2 linked regions of the Homo sapiens genome follow. The protein of the gene in region 1 binds, or shares a complex with, the protein of each later gene. Each region holds a gene or a part of one and is shown on either strand. Other genes may lie near its edges. The genes, in order: USH1C and CDHR2.

The links.
Region 2: USH1C (region 1) and CDHR2 share a complex: the UniProt entries of both Homo sapiens proteins name them as parts of the IMAC/intermicrovillar adhesion complex.

Annotation. Positions count from the first base shown.
Region 1 is NC_000011.10:17,493,357-17,499,644, reverse strand, and holds the end of USH1C (harmonin), read left to right. Parts: intron 1-1,373; coding exon 1,374-1,483; intron 1,484-2,030; coding exon of another isoform or gene 2,031-2,126; intron 2,127-2,831; coding exon 2,832-2,887; intron 2,888-3,967; coding exon 3,968-4,076; coding exon of another isoform or gene 4,077-4,292; exon of another isoform or gene 4,293-5,232; intron 5,233-5,268; coding exon 5,269-5,313; 3' UTR 5,314-5,745; downstream 5,746-6,288. UniProt on the Homo sapiens protein: Anchoring/scaffolding protein that is a part of the functional network formed by USH1C, USH1G, CDH23 and MYO7A that mediates mechanotransduction in cochlear hair cells. Required for normal development and maintenance of cochlear hair cell bundles.
Region 2 is NC_000005.10:176,587,071-176,594,341, forward strand, and holds part of CDHR2 (cadherin-related family member 2 precursor), read left to right. Parts: intron 1-1,960; coding exon 1,961-2,112; intron 2,113-2,259; coding exon 2,260-2,368; intron 2,369-2,457; coding exon 2,458-2,546; intron 2,547-3,007; coding exon 3,008-3,076; intron 3,077-3,182; coding exon 3,183-3,260; intron 3,261-3,354; coding exon 3,355-3,415; intron 3,416-3,492; coding exon 3,493-3,617; intron 3,618-4,139; coding exon 4,140-4,253; intron 4,254-4,333; coding exon 4,334-4,414; intron 4,415-5,652; coding exon 5,653-5,710; intron 5,711-7,271. UniProt on the Homo sapiens protein: Intermicrovillar adhesion molecule that forms, via its extracellular domain, calcium-dependent heterophilic complexes with CDHR5 on adjacent microvilli. Thereby, controls the packing of microvilli at the apical membrane of epithelial cells.

The sequences.
Region 1 (6,288 bases):
CCATCAGTGCCCACCCAGGCCCCACCTTCTTCTTCTGTCTTCATTTCTCTGTCACCTGGTGACACTTCTGTGATACCTGCCTGCTGTGTCTAGCAGAGAGAGGGGACCAGGATGGATGGGTGACTCTCCTGGGTCCTTCCCACTTACAAAGCCCCAACCCAACCACTGCCTTATTGCCCCTGAGACTCTGTCATGGATTTGTACAAAATGAAAAGGTGAAAGTCACCCATCCCCAGTTGCACTGCACAGAGGCAACTGCTTTCTGTGGTTTGGTCCTGCACTGCTTTGAACATAACTAGTCACTGATGAAGCTTCCCTAGGAGCACGTGTGTTTTAAGCCACCATGGCCACCATTGTCAGTATCATACACCACATTCCTATGGGCCTTCATGCCACAAGGCTCCTGGGTGATCTATTTCAATGTAACCTGGAGAGTGTTCTGTGGACATCAGGACTGGGAGAAATTCCTCCAAAAAGGGCTCTGATGTCAAAGAGGTGTGGAAAACCACGCACAATCTGTCTACCTCTTGGAAAGCTGCAGTGCATGTTAGCACATTCAAGACTGACAAATCCTGCAGTGAGTAGCTCTGTTCAGCTTATAACTCAGCTTTCCCCAAAATTATTAGATCCCAGGCAACTCTTTCAGGAGCACCTTATTACAGCTTCATTTATTCAACAAATATCTACTGAGGTCCTATTTTGTGTCAGGCATTATGTTAAGTGCTGGGGATATTATGGTGAACCAAAAAGACAATCCCTGCCCACGTGGAGCTGACAGTGTGGTGGGAGAGACCATCAGTAAACAAACAGATTAATGATTACGAATTGTGGAAAATGCCAAATAAGAAAAGATTGGGATGCTGTGAGAGAATAGGCAAGATCTACATTCGACTGAGCGGGGGTCAGAGAAGCCCCTTCTGACATTTCCTCTCAGACCTAGAAGAAGAGAAAGCAAGGTAGGGAACAGCGACATGAAGCCTCTGAGGCAGGAGAGAGCATGGCAGCTCAGGGACCTGAACAGACCAGCATGACTGGCAACAGGGAGGGCCGGCTGGCAGAATTGACTCAGGCCTCATACTGTGCTGGAAATGCAGGTCTGTGTCCCTCTGTAATAACAGAGGCTCATCATCAATGATATCCAGGTTCTCCTGAGCTGGGGTGAGGGGGTGTGGAAGGGACAGGGACTAAATGCCCTTTGACTAGCCACTAACCAGGTGGCTAGTTTCCCCTCATGCTTTCTGAGTCCACATGAGCTTTCAGAACCCAGGCTCAGGTCTCTTCTGCTGTCTGGCAATGACCCCCCTTTGCCAAGCCCTGGGCCAGGCACGTGTCACATACAGCCCAGTTGGCCAATCAGCCTCATCTGCCTGCAGGTGGCATTGTGAAAGGGGACGAGATCATGGCAATCAACGGCAAGATTGTGACAGACTACACCCTGGCTGAGGCTGAGGCTGCCCTGCAGAAGGCCTGGAATCAGGGCGGGGTAAGAATAAGGCCCCTCCCTCCTTTCCTCCCTCACCTGCCTGCCTCAAACCCTGGCCTCTGCAGCCAGGTCTCACAATAGGATGCCTCATTCCAGGGTGGGCATCTGGAGTCCAGGCAACACTTTGGTGACACCATACCCCATCCAGCCTGTGGTTTAAATCTGACAAGATGGGATTCAGAAAAATAGATGTCAATTCCTGACCTTGGATCCAAAAAGCCAGTGGCTTAAACAGACTCTTGAAGCCAGGGCATGGCAGGTCACCCAAGAAAAAGACTTAAGGTCTTTTCTAAGTGCACACTGAACAAGAATCAAGAGAATTCTGGGGGCTACCAGAAAGCATTAACAAAAGCAGAGAACCCAGGATGAAGGAGGGGCTGGTGGGAATCTGCTCTGCACTCATTAGACACCCACCTGGATCACGGCCACTGCATAAGATTGCCCAGGCTGTGCACTACATAATCTGAGGGGGTGCCCTTTTACAGACTGTAGTGTGAATGGTGCCTGCTCATGGTGTGCAATGCACAACCTGTGCAACTGTATGCAGGCAGCCGAGCCTGAGGTATTAAGTTCAGTGCCGAGGAAGCTGACCAGATGGGCCTGGGACCCACATGAAGGGATGTGGAGAAGAGAAGACTCACGGGTAACATGATGACTATCTTTGATTATCTGAAGGTCTGCATTAGGGCAGAGGGAGCAGAAGTGTTCTCTCTGATTCTTGAGGGAAGACCTGGATTGGATGGAGGGAAGTCCTGGGGAAAGAGAGAGAGATTTCAGCTCAATATTAGGAACCAGCTCATGGTAGAGGGGCCCAGTGATATTTCCAATACTTTTCAGGGGATACACCTAAGCCAAGGAGGGAGAATGAGGGGCAAGTCAAGGATGGCAGTAAAAGGGATTCAGGTGTTAGGATCAAAAAGCTGGGCCAGAAGTCCCCCACTTGATTGTGCATCAGAAAGTGCGTCGGAATTACCCAGAGAGGTTGTTAAAAGTACTATTTCCCAGGACTCACCCTTGACTTCTGGGGGCCAAGTCTACGAGCCTACACTTTTAAGAAGTTCCCCCAAGTGATTCTGAGGTTGCTGCCTGTCCCCGGTCCATAGATTGACATTTGGGAGCTGAGTGTCATTCAAGGGCCTTGCAGCCCTGTCCTCTATGGTCCCGAAGCCTCAGAGACTAGAAACGTCCTCAGACCATGGAAGTCACAGTGGGCCCCAGGTGGGCCCGTGGGAAGAAGGTGCAGCCTGGCTGATCCTAGGCCATGGGGCCCAGAAATGGGGATGGAGTGCCGGGGCAGATGCACCATCCAACTGAGTGTGCCCCAGAGTCACACGGCTTCTCCCCACAGGACTGGATCGACCTTGTGGTTGCCGTCTGCCCCCCAAAGGAGTATGACGATGAGCTGTAAGTGTGTGCAAGCACCTAGCCTGAGACCTCTTCTTCCTTCTCCAGAATCTCAGCCACCTTTCTCCAGCCCATCCCCAGCCTTCTCCCAGCCTGAAGGAATGGCCCAAGCACGCAGCTTCTCATAGCCAGAGCTCCTAGAAAACTCCTGGACTAGAGCCAAGTCATTGTCCTTAAGCAGTGTCTGAGCTGCCTCCCGGGCAGTCTTGTCCAAATTCTTCTCTACTATGGGGAATTGAGGCATGAGGTCTTAGACCGGGTAAGCAGAGACGTTGGGAAAAAGACTCAGGATTGTTAATTCCCCACTCAGAACTTTATCCCCTGCCCCATTATTAGATGGTTAGAAGGTGTCTGTGTCCATCCTTCACTCTCTGGAAGGTCTTCCTGATGTCTAACTGCATTCACTCATACTGTGCCTCTAGGCAGCCGGGACCACAGGCTTTTGTCCCCACGCTGTGGGATCTCCAGGGAGCTTTGGCCTAGACTGTCTCTCTCTGTGATTCCCTGTGTGTCTGTCTCTTGTGTCCTGTGGGTCTCTCTGTCTTCTCTCCTCCTCCCTCTCTGTCTTTCTTTCACCCTTTCCTTCCTTCCTGTCAACATCTTATCTGCCCCCCTCCTTCCCCTTCATCCCGGTCCCCTTTCTCTCTCACTGTCTCCTATTCTTTCTTCCTGTTTCTCTTCATCCCTGTCTCTGAGTCCCTGTTCCTCTGTCCTTGTCATTCTGCATCCATTCTTACCTCTTTGTCTGCCTTTCTCTGTTTCTCTGCCTCTGTGTGGTGTCTCACCTCCATCCTCACCTCATCCCATCACCTCCCCAGCCCTCACCCACCCACCACTCACCCACTCACTGACCATGCCCTGCCTCCCTGTCGTGGCTGGGCCTGCTTGCTCCCCGTGCCCAGCAGAATCTGAGCTCTACACATGTCTTGGAGAAACCAGGGTCTCGCAGCTCCTAATTCTGGAACCCAGGGGCTAGGCAGAACCCGAGGCAGGAGCCCAGTGAAAGGAGAAGCCCCATGGAGCTCTGCCTGGGAGTAACCAAGCCTGTTTTGTGTTTCTTGCTCTGCTCTGTATATATAGAGCTTCTCTTCCCTCCTCCGTAGCTGAAAGCCCCCAACCGGTCCGAAAGCTCCTTGAAGACCGTGCTGCCGTGCACAGACACGGGTTCCTCCTGCAGCTGGAGCCCACGGTGAATAGGCAGGCGGGCCACAGGGCCCTGTGTGTCCCTGCTGCTTGCAGTGGCCATCTGCTGCCCACGCTGTCAGCAGGTTCTTTGGACTGGCGTCTGGAGGGTACACAAGGCGCCATCCCTGAAGTGCTGCCTGGGGCCTGCTGTTGGCCACAGTGGAATTCCTCAGACTCAAAGCCCTCCCCTCAGGGAAGTGGTGCAAAGCCCAGTCTGTAGTACTTGCTTGGGACCCAGGTGTCCTGACTCATCACGGCCCTGGGACCTGCTTTGGGTCCCAAGCAGCACCCAAATGAGCAGGATGAAGCCCTGGGCAACATTCTCTGAGGGACACAGACAATGCCTCGAACCAGGCATGTGGGGCTGAAGGAGCCCACAGGAAGCCTGGCTGGAATTGCCCCCAAGAGATGTCCTCAACAGAATGTGAAAATTCCCCTTCCTGTGAATGCCAACCTCCTGGGAGCTCTTGCTCCACCATGGCCCCCACACTTGGCCAGAACCAGGGCTATTAAGAGGTTTTGAAGGCTGGTCCAAAGAACCAGGGTTGGTGGATTAGAGTTGCTCATGTCCTGTTGTGCCCTGTCATGGCCTGAGCCGTGCTTAGACCAAACGGTCTTCTCTGCCTTCTCCCTTCCTTGGCTCTGGGCTCTATCTGTGGGATATACCGTGGAACCCAGCTGTAGGATGTGTTTCTCACCCTGTGATAGGGATGTGCCCGTGGACAGAGCTGGCAGGTGGCTGTGAAACTGGTGTTTGGTGTGGCCTGAAGCCACAGATGGCAGCATCTGGGGCAGACCCAAGCCTGGACTTGACTTTTCTGTTACAACTTTCCCAAAACATTAGGGCCTCATGCTCCCAAGACACTTGGCCGGGTAGACCATGGCTTCTGGGGTGGCCTGCATGGCCCTATGTTTTCTGTTACTTGCCTTTTGCAAAGGACTCTTGCCCCTGTTCCTCCCAGTCTCCTCCTTCCCCCATCCCAGGTGTCCCTCCCGCTTTCTCCCTGGCCTCCTGTGTGCTGTGGCTGTGGCTGGTGTGTAGCCACTTGGGGCCTGCACCCAGAGGGGTCTCCAAAGGGTGGCAGGGCCTTGTGCTGCCAGAGTGGGTACTCCCCCTTGTGGGGCCTTGCTCTGGCTGGGCTGAGTGTGCACCCACAAAGCCTGTATCCACCTGGGCTGTTTCCACTTCCCTGCAGGACCTTCTTCTGAAGTCCAAAAGGGGAAACCAAATTCACCGTTAGGAAACAGTGAGCTCCGGCCCCACCTCGTGAACACAAAGCCTCGGATCAGCCTTGAGAGAGGCCACACTACACACACCAGATGGCATCCTTGGGACCTGAATCTATCACCCAGGAATCTCAAACTCCCTTTGGCCCTGAACCAGGGCCAGATAAGGAACAGCTCGGGCCACTCTTCTGAAGGCCAACGTGGAGGAAAGGGAGCAGCCAGCCATTTGGGAGAAGATCTCAAGGATCCAGACTCTCATTCCTTTCCTCTGGCCCAGTGAATTTGGTCTCTCCCAGCTCTGGGGGACTCCTTCCTTGAACCCTAATAAGACCCCACTGGAGTCTCTCTCTCTCCATCCCTCTCCTCTGCCCTCTGCTCTAATTGCTGCCAGGATTGTCACTCCAAACCTTACTCTGAGCTCATTAATAAAATAGATTTATTTTCCAGCTTATAGGAGTGAGTGTGGATTTGGGCAGCAGATTCAAGGCTGCAAATCAAAAAACCATAAGGTTTGTGGCCCCTATTCAAGGGTGATAGACAGATCCCAGTGCTGTGATCTGGGTCTGACATGAAGGGTGTGATCAAATGGCCAGGGCTGGCTTGGAGCAGAGGTTGAGAAAGCAGGAGATGGGCTGGGCTGGGCTTCAATGTCTTCTCAGCAGAGATGGTAGGAGATGAAGTCTGTGTGGCAGGGATTTTGCTCAATTCCAGAAAGCAGAGCTGAAGGCAGGAGCCCCGAAGGGTCACCTCATGATATGGGGTGCCCAGCTTCTTTCAAGAACGACACAGCCACCAATGCTTCTCCTGAGGTCACCACGACAGCATGTGAGGGAGGAAGATGGCAGGGTCCACTCCCTCCGTGGAAGCACATCCCACAGAAGCTCATGGGAAATGCAAGGGCTTGAGGCAGGAAGGCATAACTCCGGGGGCCCAGCAGGGGGAATGTCACAGTTCTTCTGGTGACAGGGACCAGGGCTGCTAGCTCTGAG
Region 2 (7,271 bases), on another chromosome or scaffold:
ATTTCTTACTATACCAGAATTCTTGAGTAATACAGAGAACTCATAGCTAATTGTAAATTAAGCCAGTGCCTTGTCATTAAATAATTCTCAGAGCCAGCTGGGCACGGTGGCTCAAGCCTGTAATCCCAGCACTTTGGGAGGCCAAGGCAGGTGGATCACCTGAGGTCGGGAGTCTGCGACCAGCCTGACCAACATGCAGAAACCCCATCTCTACTAAAAAATACAAAATTAGCTGGGTGTGGTGGTGCATGCCTGTAATCCCAGCTACTTGGGAGGCTGAGGCAGGAGAGTCACTTGAACTCGAGAGGCGGAGGTTGCGGTGAGTCGAGATCACGCCATTGCACTCCAGCCTGGGCGACAAGAGTGAAACTCTGCCTCAAAAAAAAATAAATAAATAAATAAATTATTGGAGCCAAGTCATAAAAAGGCTTTCAGCTGTTTATGGTGTTGGATGTGGCAAGTTTATTAGGGGTGGTGGCCATGCCGTGTGGGGATGAGGCTTCCCACACCACCGAGGGCTGGGCCTGGCTGGGCTTCTTACTGACCTGGAGAGCTGCCTACCCTCTCTGGGACTCCGTTTCCCTGTTCAACAAGAAGCTAGCAGTTCCCAGAAGGTGGCATGTGGGTGCCATTCCCTATGCTTTGGAAAGGACATGGGTACAAGAGATGGACAGGGCTGGCCTTCCCCACTTAGAGCCGAGTGTAAGGACAGGGTCTCTCGGAGCCTCAGCTTCCTCTTGTAAAATGGGGATAGTAATTCTCCCTCTCTAGGTTGACGTTCATGCTAGAGACAGTGACTGTGTGACTTTCAAGTCTTAAGACAGCTTCCCAATCTTCTGCCAATTTGGTTCTAATGTCAAGAGTTTAGCCACGGCAATTTTCTTTAAATAGATTCCTTTTTAAGACCTAAGCACTGGTGTTGGCCTATCCTTAACAGTAACGTTGGTGAACTCGAAGCTCTGTGTGCTGGTTAAATTTTTCTCTAAAAGGCACTAGAATGAATAAAAATGCTTGTGTCCCCTCCCCAACCAGCTTCATGGTCTACTAGGGGAATTGGTACTCCCCGCACGGAAATGAGGGATCCCAGGGGAGGTGCTTAGGAAATCTGAGCATCGCTGTGTGTGTGCACGCCAGTGTGTGTGTGTCTAAGTGTGAATGTGTGTGCCTGAGGGTGTGTATAAGGGTGAGTGAGTGTATGTGAATGTGTGTGACAGTGTGTGGGTATGTAGGTGATTGTGGGTGTGTATGTGTGTGACTGTGCAAGTGTGTGAATGTGTGTGAATTGAGTGTATTTGTGTGAGTGTGTGTGAATTGAGTGTGTGGTGAGTGCATGAGAGAGTGAGGGTGTGAGTGTGTGTGTCAGGATAAGTGTGTGAGTGTGAGAGGGTGTGTGAGTGTATGTGAGTGTGAGAGGATAAGTGTGTGAGGGTGTGTATGAGTGTGTGCATGTGTGTGAGTGTGTTAGGGTGAGTGAGTGTATGTGTGAGTGGGACAGTGTGTGAGAGTGTGTGTGAGGGTGTGTATGAGTGTGTGTGCATATGTGTGTAAGTGTGTGTTAGGGTGAGACTGAGTGTGAGTGGGACAGTGTGTGAGAGTGTGTGTGTGTGAGAGGGTGTGTATGTGAGAGAGACTGTGTGTGTGAGTGTGTGTGTGTGAGAGAGAGAGAGAGTATGGCAGTGGAGGGGTGTAGGGGGAGCAGGGCAGGATTTCCACATGTGAGGGACTTAGGGCAGTGATCTGTTTGGAGTTGGGGAACAGGGGCAGGTTCTTGTCCAAATCTGGATTTGCAGAGCAGACACACTGTTTTTTGAAACCATTTGCTTATTCGGGGCAGCGTGGGGATGGCGGATAGAGACGGTGAGGGCCAGCCTCCCAGGCCACCCTTGCCTCTGATCCCTGCTGGGGTGGAGGGATGCCTGGCCTGGCTGGGCCCCCAGATATTGTCCACTCTTGCTCCCAGGCCAGAGACGATGATTCAGGGAACAATGGCGTCATCCTGTTCTCCATCCTCCGAGTAGACTTCATCTCTAAGGACGGGGCCACCATCCCTTTCCAGGGTGTCTTCTCGATCTTCACCTCCTCCGAGGCCGACGTGTTCGCTGGGAGCATTCAGTAACTGCGGGCGGCCCCGGGAGGGAGGTTGCGGGGAGGGGCCCGATAGGAGCTTTCAGGCAGCAAGTCCCCCATCCTGGAGGTTACAAGGGTCCTGAGGATTCAGCTTGGGTTCCAAGACTGACCTGCGCCTCCCGCCTTCCGCAGGCCGGTGACCAGCCTCGACTCCACTCTCCAAGGCACCTACCAAGTGACAGTCCAGGCCAGGGACAGACCTTCCTTGGGTCCTTTCCTGGAAGCCACCACCACCCTGAATGTGAGTGCTGGTCCCACCTCCAGCCCCCAACGCCCTCTGCCAGCCCCCAGGGTCCCTGGTGCCTCATCTCCTGCACACCCCCTTCCCAGCTCTTCACCGTGGACCAGAGTTACCGCTCGCGGCTGCAGTTCTCCACACCGAAGGAGGAGGTGGGCGCCAACAGACAGGCGATTAATGCGTAGGTCTGGGGAGCCCCGGAGGGAGGGGTAGGAAGAACAGGGTGTAGGAGCCTGGTCCCCGACAAAACCTGGATGGGATGTCTCTCAATCCTGTTCCTGACCCACATTTGACCTTGTCCCTGTCTTCAACCCTGTACTTTCACCTGCACGACGTTCTTGCATGTCCCCAGAAGCCCATACCCAGCCAAGGGCAGAGGGAAGCCTTGGAACAAGGCTGCCGTGTACAGTTGTGAAGGCTGTGTGTTGCACAAGGGCACTCTGCTTGCTAAGCTATTCACCCAGCCCCAGAGGAAGGGATTTCCTTTTGTAATTTTCACAGAGATGCTACCTACTCAGCCAACAGAGCTGTCCAGAGGAGGTGCCCTTTCTCACTCATACAATTCTTAATCCCACTGGCACAGCCCTGGCCACAGGCCCAGGCTAAGACCCCAGGCCTCTGTGACATCTGCCTTCTTTGCAGGGCTCTTACCCAGGCAACCAGGACTACAGTATACATTGTGGACATTCAGGACATAGATTCTGCAGCTCGGTGAGTGCCCAGAGGCCTGGGGGTGGGGTTGAGGGGGAGAAGCGGTAGCAGGAGGGGCCTGCTGGGTGATCCAGGCTCCTGACTCTTCAACTCTGTCCCGCTCCAGGGCCCGACCTCACTCCTACCTCGATGCCTACTTTGTCTTCCCCAATGGGTCAGCCCTGACCCTTGATGAGCTGAGTGTGTGAGTGGGGCTGCCCTTGGGGCAGGTGTGAGGGTGAGCAGGAAGCCTGGGGTGTGCCAAGGTCCCTCGGGCCTAAGTGGAGTTCTGTGGCCAGGATGATCCGGAATGATCAGGACTCGCTGACGCAGCTGCTGCAGCTGGGGCTGGTGGTGCTGGTGAGTGCGGGCAGGGCGGGGCAGCAGGTGGGGCTGCTGAAGACGAGTGTGCTTCCCTCACACTCATCTTTCTCCAGGGCTCCCAGGAGAGCCAGGAGTCAGACCTGTCGAAACAGCTCATCAGTGTCATCATAGGATTGGGAGTGGCTTTGCTGCTGGTCCTTGTGATCATGACCATGGCCTTCGTGTGTGTGCGGAAGAGGTGCGGCTCCCATTGCCCCCGTGTCTCCAACCTTCACCCTCTCCCACCACCCAAGACGTCGGGGGGTAGGGGTAGAAGGAGCTGGGGCTTAGGCACAGGTATACATGCATTCACTCCCCAGTGACCCAGTGCGAGATCTTGGGTGAGTCACCTCCCCTCCACGGGCCTCAGTTTCCTTATCTGTGAAAGGGCATGAGACTTGATTCCTCAGTGCACTCAAGGAAGTAACATGCATCTCACACCCAGCTAGACGTCTGGCACACACTATGCGTTTAATAGATGCTGCTGCTTTTTCCAACATGTATAGAGTCAGCAGCCGTATCTGGGCTTGACTTCAAGCCTTGTCACTGGCTATTTGACCTTTGGCAAATCACTTGCCTTCTCTGGCTCTTACTTCTACCCTCTGTAAAATAGAGCTAACACTCACCTCCCGGGATCTTGTGAAGCCACAGGCTCAGGGCCTCCACTGGGGACACAACAGGTGTGCAGCAACAGTGTGACCCCTCTTCCGGTTCCCCACAGCTACAACCGGAAGCTTCAAGCTATGAAGGCTGCCAAGGAGGCCAGGAAGACAGCAGCAGGGGTGATGCCCTCAGCCCCTGCCATCCCAGGGACTAACATGTACAACACTGAGCGGTGAGCAGGGGTCAAAGGGTAGGTAAGAGGCCTGGTGGGGTGGCTGAGGGCCAGGCAACTTGACCAGGCTTTCTCTCCAGAGCCAACCCCATGCTGAACCTCCCCAACAAAGACCTGGGCTTGGAGTACCTCTCTCCCTCCAATGACCTGGACTCTGTCAGGTGAGCAGTGCCCCTCACAGCCAGGCTAGGTGGTGGTGGTGGTACAGGTAGTGACGGTGGTGGTGGTGATGGTGTTGGTGGTGATGATGGTGATGACAATGGTGATGGTGTGGTCATGGTAGTAGTGGTAGTTATGGTGGTGGTGGTGATGGTAGTGAGGTGATGGTGATGGTAGCAATGGTGACAGTGGTGATGATGACAACAATGATGGTGGTGATGATGGTGTTGGTGTTGAGGTGATGGTGATGGTTGTGATGGTGATGGTGGTGATGATGGTGATGATGACGATGGTGGTGGTGGTGGTGGTGTTGGTGTTGAGGTGATGGTGATGGTTGTGATGGTGATGGTGGTGATGATGGTGTTGGTGTTGAGGTGATGGTGATGGTTGTGATGGTGATGGTGGTGATGATGGTGTTGGTGTTGAGGTGATGGTGATGGTTGTGATGGTGATGGTGGTGATGATGGTGATGATGACGGTGGTGGTGGTGGTGGTGTTGGTGTTGAGGTGATGGTGGTGATGGTAGTGGTGGTGGGTGATGGTGGTGGCAATGGTGATGGTGGTGGTCATGGTGGTCATGGTAGTGGTGGCAGTTATCGTGGTGGTGGTGGTGATGGTGGTGGTGATGGTGATGGTAGTGATGGTGATGGTGGTGATGATGGTGATGATGACAATGATGATGGTGGTGGTGGTGTTGGTGTTGAGGTGATGATGGTGCTGATGGTGATGGTGGTGATGATGGTGATGATGACAATGATGATGGTGGTGGTGGTGTTGGTGTTGAGGTGATGATGGTGGTGATGGTGATGGTGGTGATGGTGATGGTGGTGGTGGTGGTGTTGGTGTTGAGGTGATGGTGGTGATGGTGATGGTAGTGATGGTGATGGTGGTGGTGATGGTTATGATGATGATGGTGGTGGTGGTGTTGGTGTTGAGGTGATGGTGATGGTGGTGATGATGGATGATGACGGTGGTGGTGGTGGTGTTGGTGTTGAGGTGATGGTGATGGTGGTGGTGATAGTGATTATGATGATAGTGGTGGTGGTGGTGTTGGTGTTGAGGTGATGGTGATGGTGCTGATGGTAGTGATGATGGTAGTTGTGATGATGGTGGTGGTGGTGATGGTGATGATGGTGGTAGTCGTGGTGATGGTGATGGTGGTGATGGAGGTGGTGGTTCTTGGGCACAGTAAGGGAGGACTGGGCCTGCCAACACCTGAGCTCCATCACCTCTCTTACAGCGTCAACTCCCTGGACGACAACTCTGTGGATGTGGACAAGAACAGTCAGGAAATCAAGGCAAGATGGGGGATGAATTGGTGCCTGGAGGTTCCAACTTGGGTTCTTCTGTGGAGGCTTCAGGGCAGAGCTCAAGGGACCTGCTACTGACATGGGCAGTTCTGCTTCTCTGCACCAGGCCCCAGGAAGCCCTGTGGCTTTGGAATGGGGTCCAATTCCTGCTCCTCCACTGGTTCACTGTGTGACCCTGAGAGACTTCTTGCCTCTGCTTCTCAGTTTTTTCACCTGTAAATGGGGATGGGAACATCAACCATGCAGGGCCATTGTGAGGATTAAATAAGGGCAGGCATAAGAACCACTTGGCACAAACAAGTGCTCACCAATCTGCTTCCAGCCCTTTATGGCCGTTATAGGAAAGCCAGCTGGGGGTGGGAAAGCAGATCCAGAGGTGAACCAGCATAGTCTAGCAAAGGAGAGAAGATGGGTTCAAATAAACAACAGTACCGCCATCTGTTAAACAGGTGAGTTGGTTGGATGAGATCAAGTGTTCATAGACTGGCCTGCTGCGTAAAAGCACCTGAGGAGCTCTTGAAAAATACTGATGCCCAGGTCACACCCAGGTCCATGGGTGCAACATTCTAGCATTTTAAAGACCAAGAGTTCTGATTCTGATGGCCCACGTGGAGCCTGGGCATGGACCTGTTGTAAAAGCCGCTCAGGGGGTGCTAAGGTGCAGGCACGGTGGACACCGCTGGAGCGGGTCAGCAGGCTGAGTGTGGGGTGGGTCCTGGACATGGAGGGGTGGCTCTCTGGAAACAGAAGGAACTGCCCTCTCTCCTTCCCACTTTGAAAGCCACCTCTGGAGGAGACGCTTAAGGCCCATTGGAGCTGTGATAGGCTGAGGTTCTGTGTGTGGTGCTGCGGGGGATCCACCCACATTTTCCCCCAGTCTGGGTTCTGGGCTTGGCTGGGTCCCAGGCCACTAGGGGCTCCCAACCTGACTTCATGGTTCAGAATTTGTTTTCCCTGAGGACTCCTTACATGGAAAGATTTGGTCAACCGAAGCCTCTCTTGGTCTTTAAAATGGTAGAATGTCGCACAGGGGCCCAGGTATAACACGGTACAGGGAATCTGGCACAGAGGCCTCCGGACAGGCCCCAGGTATGGTTGTGTGGGTGGTAATGCAGGCAGCCAGGCAGCGCTGGAGGCCTCTGGGTAGATGCTAGGAGATGGTTAGTGGCCAAAACTCTAATGAACATGTCTGGGGAACTGAGGCGAAGGAACAGTCTTGTCTACTGGAGTGCATGGCCTGTGGCAGAGGCTGATGCTGCTCCTAACCCAAGGGAGTGGAGTTAAGGACCCCCTGAGGTGTGGCTGGATCTGTGGACTGGGAAGGGGCAGGGAAGTAGGAGAAGGGTCTGGAGAGGGTGTGGGGACAAGTCACGGAAAGTCTTCAAAGCCAGAAAATTGCTCAGATTATGTCCTGGGAGGGCAGGGGGTTGCTATATTTCTGAGAAGCTGCCCAAGGCTCCACCCTGTCTCCTGCAGCAGTGAGTCTTGCGGGTCTCTGGGCAGGTCCACGAGGCATGGGGCCTTTTTGGGAGCTGTCTGCCCCCTGCTC